Homo sapiens: one gene and its partner. Each later gene encodes a partner of the first gene's protein in a complex. Each region holds a gene or a part of one and is shown on either strand. Other genes may lie near its edges. A codon is read from its position in the direction of its gene.

Region 1 (4,156 bases):
CCGTTTTCCACTGGCCGCTTGCCTCTCTTATCCCCATGCAACCTTGCCTATTGGCCCCTTTCCCTAGGAGAGCCCCTGGGGCTGTCTGATGGAACTGATTGTAAAACTATTTTGTGCAGTAAAAAAGTCGTTTCTTCAAAATCTGAGACCACCCAGAACATGCCCAATCTTTGGCAAATATCGACTGGTTTCCTCAGTATTTGACTAGCTGTACACCGAGTAACTGTCCCGGGTTTCTGGGTCTTTATCTGAGAAGAAATGAGGGGGAAATGTTTCAGAAGATGAAAAAAGGAAGAAAACCTCTCATCCAAAATCTGTTCAAAATTCATTTTGTGCGTTTCGAAGGGGGAGGACAGGAGAATTTAGTGCAAAGACGGCCTCCACCAAACGAAACCGTCCAACATTTGCAAAAGCTTTTAAAATAAACTGCTCAGGGATCAGGGGTTTGCTGGAAACTCCCGGTCGCTTGAAGCCCTGTCCCTCCACTCCGGGCACCCTGGCCTCCCCAGGGTGGGCACCCCTCCTGCACGGAGAGCGGCGGCTGGGATCTCGGAGCAGGGTCGGCTATGGCCCTGGAGGCAGCGGCTCACAGAGAAAAAGCTCTGGCTTTTCTCCGCCCGCTGCGTTCCTCTTCTTACAGCCTCGGGTGTCACATATTAGGTGCTCAATAAATGTGGACATAGGAAACGAAAAGTCCGAATCTGTCCTTACGCCCCCAAGGCGAATTCTGGGGCGCGCGGGTTTATTCCGACCCACTACCACATCGCGTTTCCTGAGGTAACCCGGCCTCGGCTCTGCGGCCCCAGCGGCTGGAGAGCCACGGAGAAGGCGGGCTACGGGCGACAAGATGGAGAGCCGGCCCGAGAGGGACAGAGGCCGCGCTGGCAGCGAGCTGGGGGGCCCACCTGACCGTCCTGCGGGCAGCCCGGCCCCGCGCTCCCATTGACAAGGAGGTCCGCGCCGCCGGCGCGTGGGGCGGGGGCGGAGGCGGGGTGGGGCGCCCCGGCGCGCGCCCGGCCCCACTCCCCGCCCCCGCCAGTCCCGCAAGCACCCACCCCGGGGGAGCCGCGGGCCGGGAGGGCGCTGGGGGGAGGGGCAGGCCGCTCCGCGAGCGCGTGTGCGCGCCGCCGCCGGCTGACGCGAACTCCGGCGCGCGCCTCCCCCGCCCCGCGCCCTCCCCGTCCCGGGGGCCCGGCGCGCGGCCCTGCTGACGTCAGCTGGCGGCCCGCGGAGCCGGGTGCGCAGAGCCGCTGGCGCACTCGCGCGCTGCGCTGGCCTCCTCCCCGCCCCGGGCCCAGGCGCGCGCGCGCTTGTTCGCTCTCCCATTTTTTTTTTCCCCTCCCTCCCTGCCTCTCTCTCTCTCCCTCTCCCTCGAGCTCCCGGCTGGCTGCGGCTCCCTGGCGCTCTCCCTCTCTCTCCGGTAGGCTCACCGAGCGATGCGAGCTCTGGGAGACAGCGACGCCGCCTCCCGCTAGAGACCTGCCCCTCGGCCCGGCCCCCTGCCCAACCCTGCCCAGCGCGCGGGGGTCGGCGAAGGCGCCGCGGACGCACCGACGGCTGAAGAGCGGCGATGCACATGCACTAGCAGCACCCCCTAACTCACTCCCTCCACATCCCGCGCCGCCGCCGCCGCCTCCTCCACCTCCTCCTCCGCCGCCGCCGCCTCCTCCTCCTCCGGCAGCCGCGGCAGCAGGACCCACCCTGCCCCCCACCCCACCCTCTGTCGGCTCCGGCTGCGGCTCCAGCCTCGACTATTATTTTATTTATTTTGGGTCGTGCACAAGCCTCAGTGCCTGCAGTCCGCGCCTCCTCGGCCCGCGGGCGCCTCCTCCCTTGGCTCCGGAGCCCCAGACCCCGGCCACCCTCGATTCGACAACCCCAGACCCCTGCCAGCTGCCGCGAGTCTCCGCTGCTGGAATCTTGTTAGCGGCTGTCTTTTTGGAGGGTTCTGGTTTCCCGACATTTTTGTTTCCAGCCCAGGAGAGGATATCGTGATTTTCCCCCCTTGAGCCCAGGCTCTGCTCTCTGGGGGGGTGGGGGGCGCTCCAAGCCGGGGAGCCGTGCCAGCCGAGTCGTGCGGGCTGTGGCAGGGAAGGGGCCACCATGGGATGTACTCTGAGCGCAGAGGAGAGAGCCGCCCTCGAGCGGAGCAAGGCGATTGAGAAAAACCTCAAAGAGGATGGCATCAGCGCCGCCAAAGACGTGAAATTACTCCTGCTCGGTAAGGACCGCCGCTGCTACCCCCATCCCCCGACCCCGGCCACTCCGCACCCCCTGCCACCAGCTCCCCCACCCCACTCGCGCCCGGGAGACCTGGTCCCCAAGTTGGCACCACCATGTGCCCAGGATCGCCCACCCCCTCGCATGCCTTAGTCCCCCCCTCCCCCTGTTCCCTTAAGCTGACACTCACCAGTTTTTCCCCACTGTCTGTGTCCCAACAGGGGCTGGAGAATCAGGAAAAAGCACCATTGTGAAGCAGATGAAGTAAGTCCCTGTGGCATTGGGATTCGTACTTTTATTAAGAATAATTTTTAAATCGTTTTTATTACATTGCTTACTCCACATTGCTCTCCAGGCCTGTTTTTTAATTCGTGCACACACACACACACACACACACACCCCTATATTTGACTCCCCTCCCCCACTCCCTACGTTGGTTCTGGGTCCTCCACCCTAACTCCTGGGTGGGTGTTTTTTGGGAGGGGGAAGGGGAGCGCCTGTAGTTGTATGAATGACAGTGTCCGCCATATTGATCAGAACATCACACTATTGGCATGATTATGATCATTACTCTTGCTTGTGGAATATTTTCTGTGTCTCACTGCCTCCATTTCTGTCTGTGTCTCTGTTTCATTCTGTCTCTATTTCTTTCTCCTCTTCCCTCCATACCTCCCTATCCCCCAAGGTCCGTAATCCCACTTCCCCCTGCTCTTTTCCTGGGGCAGTGATTTTGAACTTGGCTAACATGGAGGGGACCCAGCCCTAGACTGGGGTGGAGGATCAAGTGTCTGCTGTTCATGCGTTTGGTGCTGAATTGGAGGCTGTGGTTTCTACATCCCCTCGCACCCCCTCCCCCGCAAAAAAAGAGGGCCAGGGTTAGGGGAGGGGTCGTGTGCTAGGGGAAGGAGTGGGTTTCCAAACGTAGGTGACGGGCACAGTTTTATCCAAGGTAGAGGTGGAAGGGGGAGGGAAGCTGCCTGTGAGGCTGAATGTCCGCCCCTTGCTGCCCCCAGCTCCTCTCCTCCCCCACCCTCCCAGCATTGCTCTCCTGACACCCGCAGTTTTCGTTCGCTCCGTGGCCTTTATCAGTGTATTTATTTACACTCTGCATAGGCCGTGTTCCATGTAATCTACCCACAATGCGGATTTCAGGCCCCACTTGCCGCCGCCCCCTTCTGCCTTAGCTATCAGTTTCCCCTCCTAATTAACTGGGGGTGGATTTGAGTGATGGTTGAAAATTAAAACAAAATGGGATATTCCTTCCCTTCCACACTTTCTCAATAAGGAGCCTCGCCCCTCCTTTCCACTTGCAGGCTCGCTTCTTGCCCTATCCACTCGGCAGTTCCTGGTGATCCCACAGGCAGGTTTGCTTGGGGAGGGGGTGGCCGGCAGCGAAGGGGTGTGCGCCCTCCGGGCCTCCTGTTTCGGTTGGCCTGTCAGTTCGAGACGGAGGAGTTCGTTTAGACCGTTTAGCGAAGATTCCACGTCGCTTTGCTGTGACACCTTCGTGCACACACAGCTCCTAATTAGGGGTTGCTGTGCAGTAAACAAAAATGATTATTTTTCAACTTGACACAATAGCCGAAATAATTGCATCGCGTAGGGAAACAATGGAAAATAAAAACCCCTTTCGTGGGAAGGTGGGAGTGGGAGACGAAGCATGCTTGCGGTTTCAGAACCAAGATGCAAAAAATCTTGGATGTGTAACAGGCATGACAAGCGGGTTCTAGGCGGCGCCATGATGGTAGGGAGTAGCGACTCGGAGACAATTTTCCCATCTGCTTGACATGTTCTTATTTTTATTCGAGAGCTCCCTGGGGCTTTCTTCGCAGAGCCCCCCTTGGCTCGCCGCACCCTTCTGAGCCAGGGGTAATTTAGCTTGGGGCTTCTCTTGAGCTTGTGCAACCCAAATTGATGGGGAGGCGGGGCCTGGGGA
Region 2 (3,612 bases), on another chromosome or scaffold:
GGGAGCGGCCACCTGAGTCAGGGACCCTGCCCCACCCAGGCTCCCGCATCGGGGCCATGCAGCCCAGGGAGCCGCTGCTGAAGTCACACCTTCCCCTTCTCATCTCCTTGGCAGCTCACGTCCCCAGGGCTTTATGAGGGCCTCTGCAGGACTGAGGGCAGGTTGTTTGGTTCTAGCCTAGAAAGGCTAAGAGACAGGGTGCAAAGAGCATGGCTTTGGGTTCCTCTTGAGCCCATCCCCCTGTGGTCTCTCCCTCCTTTCCTGGAGCCACCAGGCATGGGGCACAAGGAGAGCTGCCACGAAGGGTAAAGCGGCCGAGCAGAGAGCCTGGCATGGGGGTGCTCTGCCCACCTCTCATTAGCAATAGCTGTGAACATTGCTCCCACCGTCACCAAGGTAAACGCCATCAGGCTGGTGGGGGAGGGTGGCAGGGGCTCTCAGGTCCTCCTCCTCGAGCTGTCCTACCTGAGACCCCTCAGTGGGATCCCTTGGCCCTCCTGCCCCCTGCCCCCACCAGCTGGTTGCTCTCTGCCCTGAGGAGGGCCCTGCCCTCTCTCCCTCTTCTTCCCAAGAGGCCCTGATGTCGATCTGGGATGCTTTGTTCTGTGGCGGGGCGGGGGATGTCTCCCAGCAGTGGGCCAACTTGTGGCTTCACCCCTGCACCTCCAGCTCCCAGGGGTGCGAGCACCTGTGCAGGAGTGGGGCTGGACCTCCCACCCCAACCTCTGCAGATGGCTCGGGCCTTTGCAGGATCAGGATGCATCATGTCAGAAACAGCTGTGTGTGCACGTGGTCTGGGGCTGATGCTGAGTCTGGTCCCAAGGGTGCAGGGGCCAAGGACAGGACCCCCAGGGAGCTCACAGCTGGTAGGGGGTGGTAAACAGGCAGCCTAGCAGAGAGTGAGGGTTCAGGTTGGTCCCAGGGAGCTTCTGAGGCTCTCACTGAGTGTGGCAGGGCACCAGTCCGGGACCCCAGTGGGGAGGGTTAGAGGAAGGGAGGGGAAAGAGGGAGGGAGGGAGGACAGGAGGGGAAAGGAGGAGCATTGCTGCTGAGGGAAGGGCCCACATAGGGGCCCACAGGCTACGGGGGCGCACCCAGCCCAATATTCCTTCCGCCCCGCCCCTGACCAGCCTGCCCTTCTGCAGGTCTCATACCGGGCCCAGCAGGGTGACACGCGGCGGGCAGTGCGGAAGATGCTGCTGGTGTGGGTGCTGGCCTTCCTGCTGTACGGACCAGCCATCCTGAGCTGGGAGTACCTGTCCGGGGGCAGCTCCATCCCCGAGGGCCACTGCTATGCCGAGTTCTTCTACAACTGGTACTTCCTCATCACGGCTTCCACCCTGGAGTTCTTTACGCCCTTCCTCAGCGTCACCTTCTTTAACCTCAGCATCTACCTGAACATCCAGAGGCGCACCCGCCTCCGGCTGGATGGGGCTCGAGAGGCAGCCGGCCCCGAGCCCCCTCCCGAGGCCCAGCCCTCACCACCCCCACCGCCTGGCTGCTGGGGCTGCTGGCAGAAGGGGCACGGGGAGGCCATGCCGCTGCACAGGTATGGGGTGGGTGAGGCGGCCGTAGGCGCTGAGGCCGGGGAGGCGACCCTCGGGGGTGGCGGTGGGGGCGGCTCCGTGGCTTCACCCACCTCCAGCTCCGGCAGCTCCTCGAGGGGCACTGAGAGGCCGCGCTCACTCAAGAGGGGCTCCAAGCCGTCGGCGTCCTCGGCCTCGCTGGAGAAGCGCATGAAGATGGTGTCCCAGAGCTTCACCCAGCGCTTTCGGCTGTCTCGGGACAGGAAAGTGGCCAAGTCGCTGGCCGTCATCGTGAGCATCTTTGGGCTCTGCTGGGCCCCATACACGCTGCTGATGATCATCCGGGCCGCCTGCCATGGCCACTGCGTCCCTGACTACTGGTACGAAACCTCCTTCTGGCTCCTGTGGGCCAACTCGGCTGTCAACCCTGTCCTCTACCCTCTGTGCCACCACAGCTTCCGCCGGGCCTTCACCAAGCTGCTCTGCCCCCAGAAGCTCAAAATCCAGCCCCACAGCTCCCTGGAGCACTGCTGGAAGTGAGTGGCCCACCAGAGCCTCCCTCAGCCACGCCTCTCTCAGCCCAGGTCTCCTGGGCATCTGGCCCTGCTGCCCCCTACCCGGCTCGTTCCCCCAGGGGTGAGCCCCGCCGTGTCTGTGGCCCTCTCTTAATGCCACGGCAGCCACCCTGCCATGGAGGCGCCTTCCTGGGTTGGCCAGAGGGCCCCTCACTGGCTGGACTGGAGGCTGGGTGGCCGGCCCTGCCCCCCACATTCTGGCTCCACCGGGAGGGACAGTCTGGAGGTCCCAGACATGCTGCCCACCCCCTGCTGGTGCCCACCCTTCGCAGTTACTGGTTGGTGTTCTTCCCAAAGCAAGCACCTGGGTGTGCTCCAGGCTTCCTGCCCTAGCAGTTTGCCTCTGCACGTGCACACACCTGCACACCCCTGCACACACCTGCACACCGTCCCTCTCCCCGGACAAGCCCAGGACACTGCCTTTGCTGCCTTCTGTCTCTTGCATAAGCCTCAGGCCTGGCCCTTTCACCCCTCTTCCCACCAACTCTCTCTGCCCCCAAAAGTGTCAAGGGGCCCTAGGAACCTCGAAGCTGTTCTCTGCTTTTCCATTCTGGGTGTTTTCAGAAAGATGAAGAAGAAAACATGTCTGTGAACTTGATGTTCCTGGGATGTTTAATCAAGAGAGACAAAATTGCTGAGGAGCTCAGGGCTGGATTGGCAGGTGTGGGCTCCCACGCCCTCCTCCCTCCGCTAAGGCTTCCGGCTGAGCTGTGCCAGCTGCTTCTGCCCACCCCGCCTCTGGGCTCACACCAGCCCTGGTGGCCAAGCCTGCCCCGGCCACTCTGTTTGCTCACCCAGGACCTCTGGGGGTTGTTGGGAGGAGGGGGCCCGGCTGGGCCCGAGGGTCCCAAGGCGTGCAGGGGCGGTCCAGAGGAGGTGCCCGGGCAGGGGCCGCTTCGCCATGTGCTGTGCACCCGTGCCACGCGCTCTGCATGCTCCTCTGCCTGTGCCCGCTGCGCTGCCCTGCAAACCGTGAGGTCACAATAAAGTGTATTTTTTTATTGGTGCTGATTCCTGAGGACTTTGTGGGGTGCTCAGAGCCTTCGTGCTTTGAGGAGAGACTCCAGGGAGTCCAGAAACCACTGAGAAGCAGGCGTGAGGATGAGGGCTCTGTGTTTTCTTCTAAGTCGGGGGACTGCAGTGGGGATGAAAGACCAGCCTGCCACACCAGGGTTTAATCCCAAGAAGGGTTTCATGTGCCCTACCGCCAGACCCCTGCACTTCTCAAGACCTGGCTGGCGGGTGAGGAGATGCAGCCCACGCCCTGCACAGGAGGGGCCCGCTCTGGCCCTGAGAACACAGACATGCAGCCTTCCTGCCCCCAGGACAGGTGCCTCATCTTTCTTGGTCAGGAGCAGGGTTGCACCCCAGCAAAACTTGGGACCCAGGGAGGATCATGGCCATGCCCAGCGTGTGCAGGGTCTGGGTGGCAAAGGGACTGCAGTGACCAGAGGGGAGGGATTGGGCTAGCTGGCTGGAGCTAGGCTGGAGGGGCTGCTAGAAGGGATGAG

Evidence for each region.
Region 2: the proteins of GNAO1 (region 1) and HRH3 are in contact, whole or in part, in a cryo-EM structure (PDB 8YN7), measured with the Homo sapiens proteins. Residues at the interface, in NP_066268.1 of Homo sapiens: Ile28 (codon at 2,185), Ala31 (codon at 2,194), Lys32 (codon at 2,197), Asp33 (codon at 2,200), Val34 (codon at 2,203), Lys193, Asn194, Leu195, Asn312, Pro315, Asn316, Lys317, Glu318, Ile319, Tyr320, Phe336, Thr340, Asp341, Ile343, Ile344, Ala345, Asn347, Leu348, Arg349, Gly350, Cys351, Gly352, Leu353, Tyr354; in NP_009163.2 of Homo sapiens: Asn69, Asp131, Arg132, Ser135, Val136, Ala139, Val140 (codon at 1,146), Tyr142 (codon at 1,152), Arg143 (codon at 1,155), Ala144 (codon at 1,158), Gly147 (codon at 1,167), Ile221 (codon at 1,389), Ile225 (codon at 1,401), Arg228 (codon at 1,410), Arg232 (codon at 1,422), Thr345 (codon at 1,761), Phe348 (codon at 1,770), Arg349 (codon at 1,773), Arg352 (codon at 1,782), Val356 (codon at 1,794), Leu360 (codon at 1,806), Cys415 (codon at 1,971), His416 (codon at 1,974), His417 (codon at 1,977).

What each region holds. Positions count from the first base shown.
Region 1 is NC_000016.10:56,190,133-56,194,288, forward strand, and holds the start of GNAO1 (guanine nucleotide-binding protein G(o) subunit alpha), read left to right. Parts: upstream 1-1,356; 5' UTR 1,357-2,103; coding exon 2,104-2,221; intron 2,222-2,422; exon of another isoform or gene 2,423-2,441; coding exon 2,442-2,484; exon of another isoform or gene 2,485-4,156. UniProt on the Homo sapiens protein: Guanine nucleotide-binding proteins (G proteins) function as transducers downstream of G protein-coupled receptors (GPCRs) in numerous signaling cascades.
Region 2 is NC_000020.11:62,214,460-62,218,071, reverse strand, and holds the end of HRH3 (histamine H3 receptor), read left to right. Parts: intron 1-1,145; coding exon 1,146-2,066; 3' UTR 2,067-2,665; coding exon of another isoform or gene 2,666-2,693; 3' UTR 2,694-3,112; downstream 3,113-3,612. UniProt on the Homo sapiens protein: The H3 subclass of histamine receptors could mediate the histamine signals in CNS and peripheral nervous system. Signals through the inhibition of adenylate cyclase and displays high constitutive activity (spontaneous activity in the absence of agonist).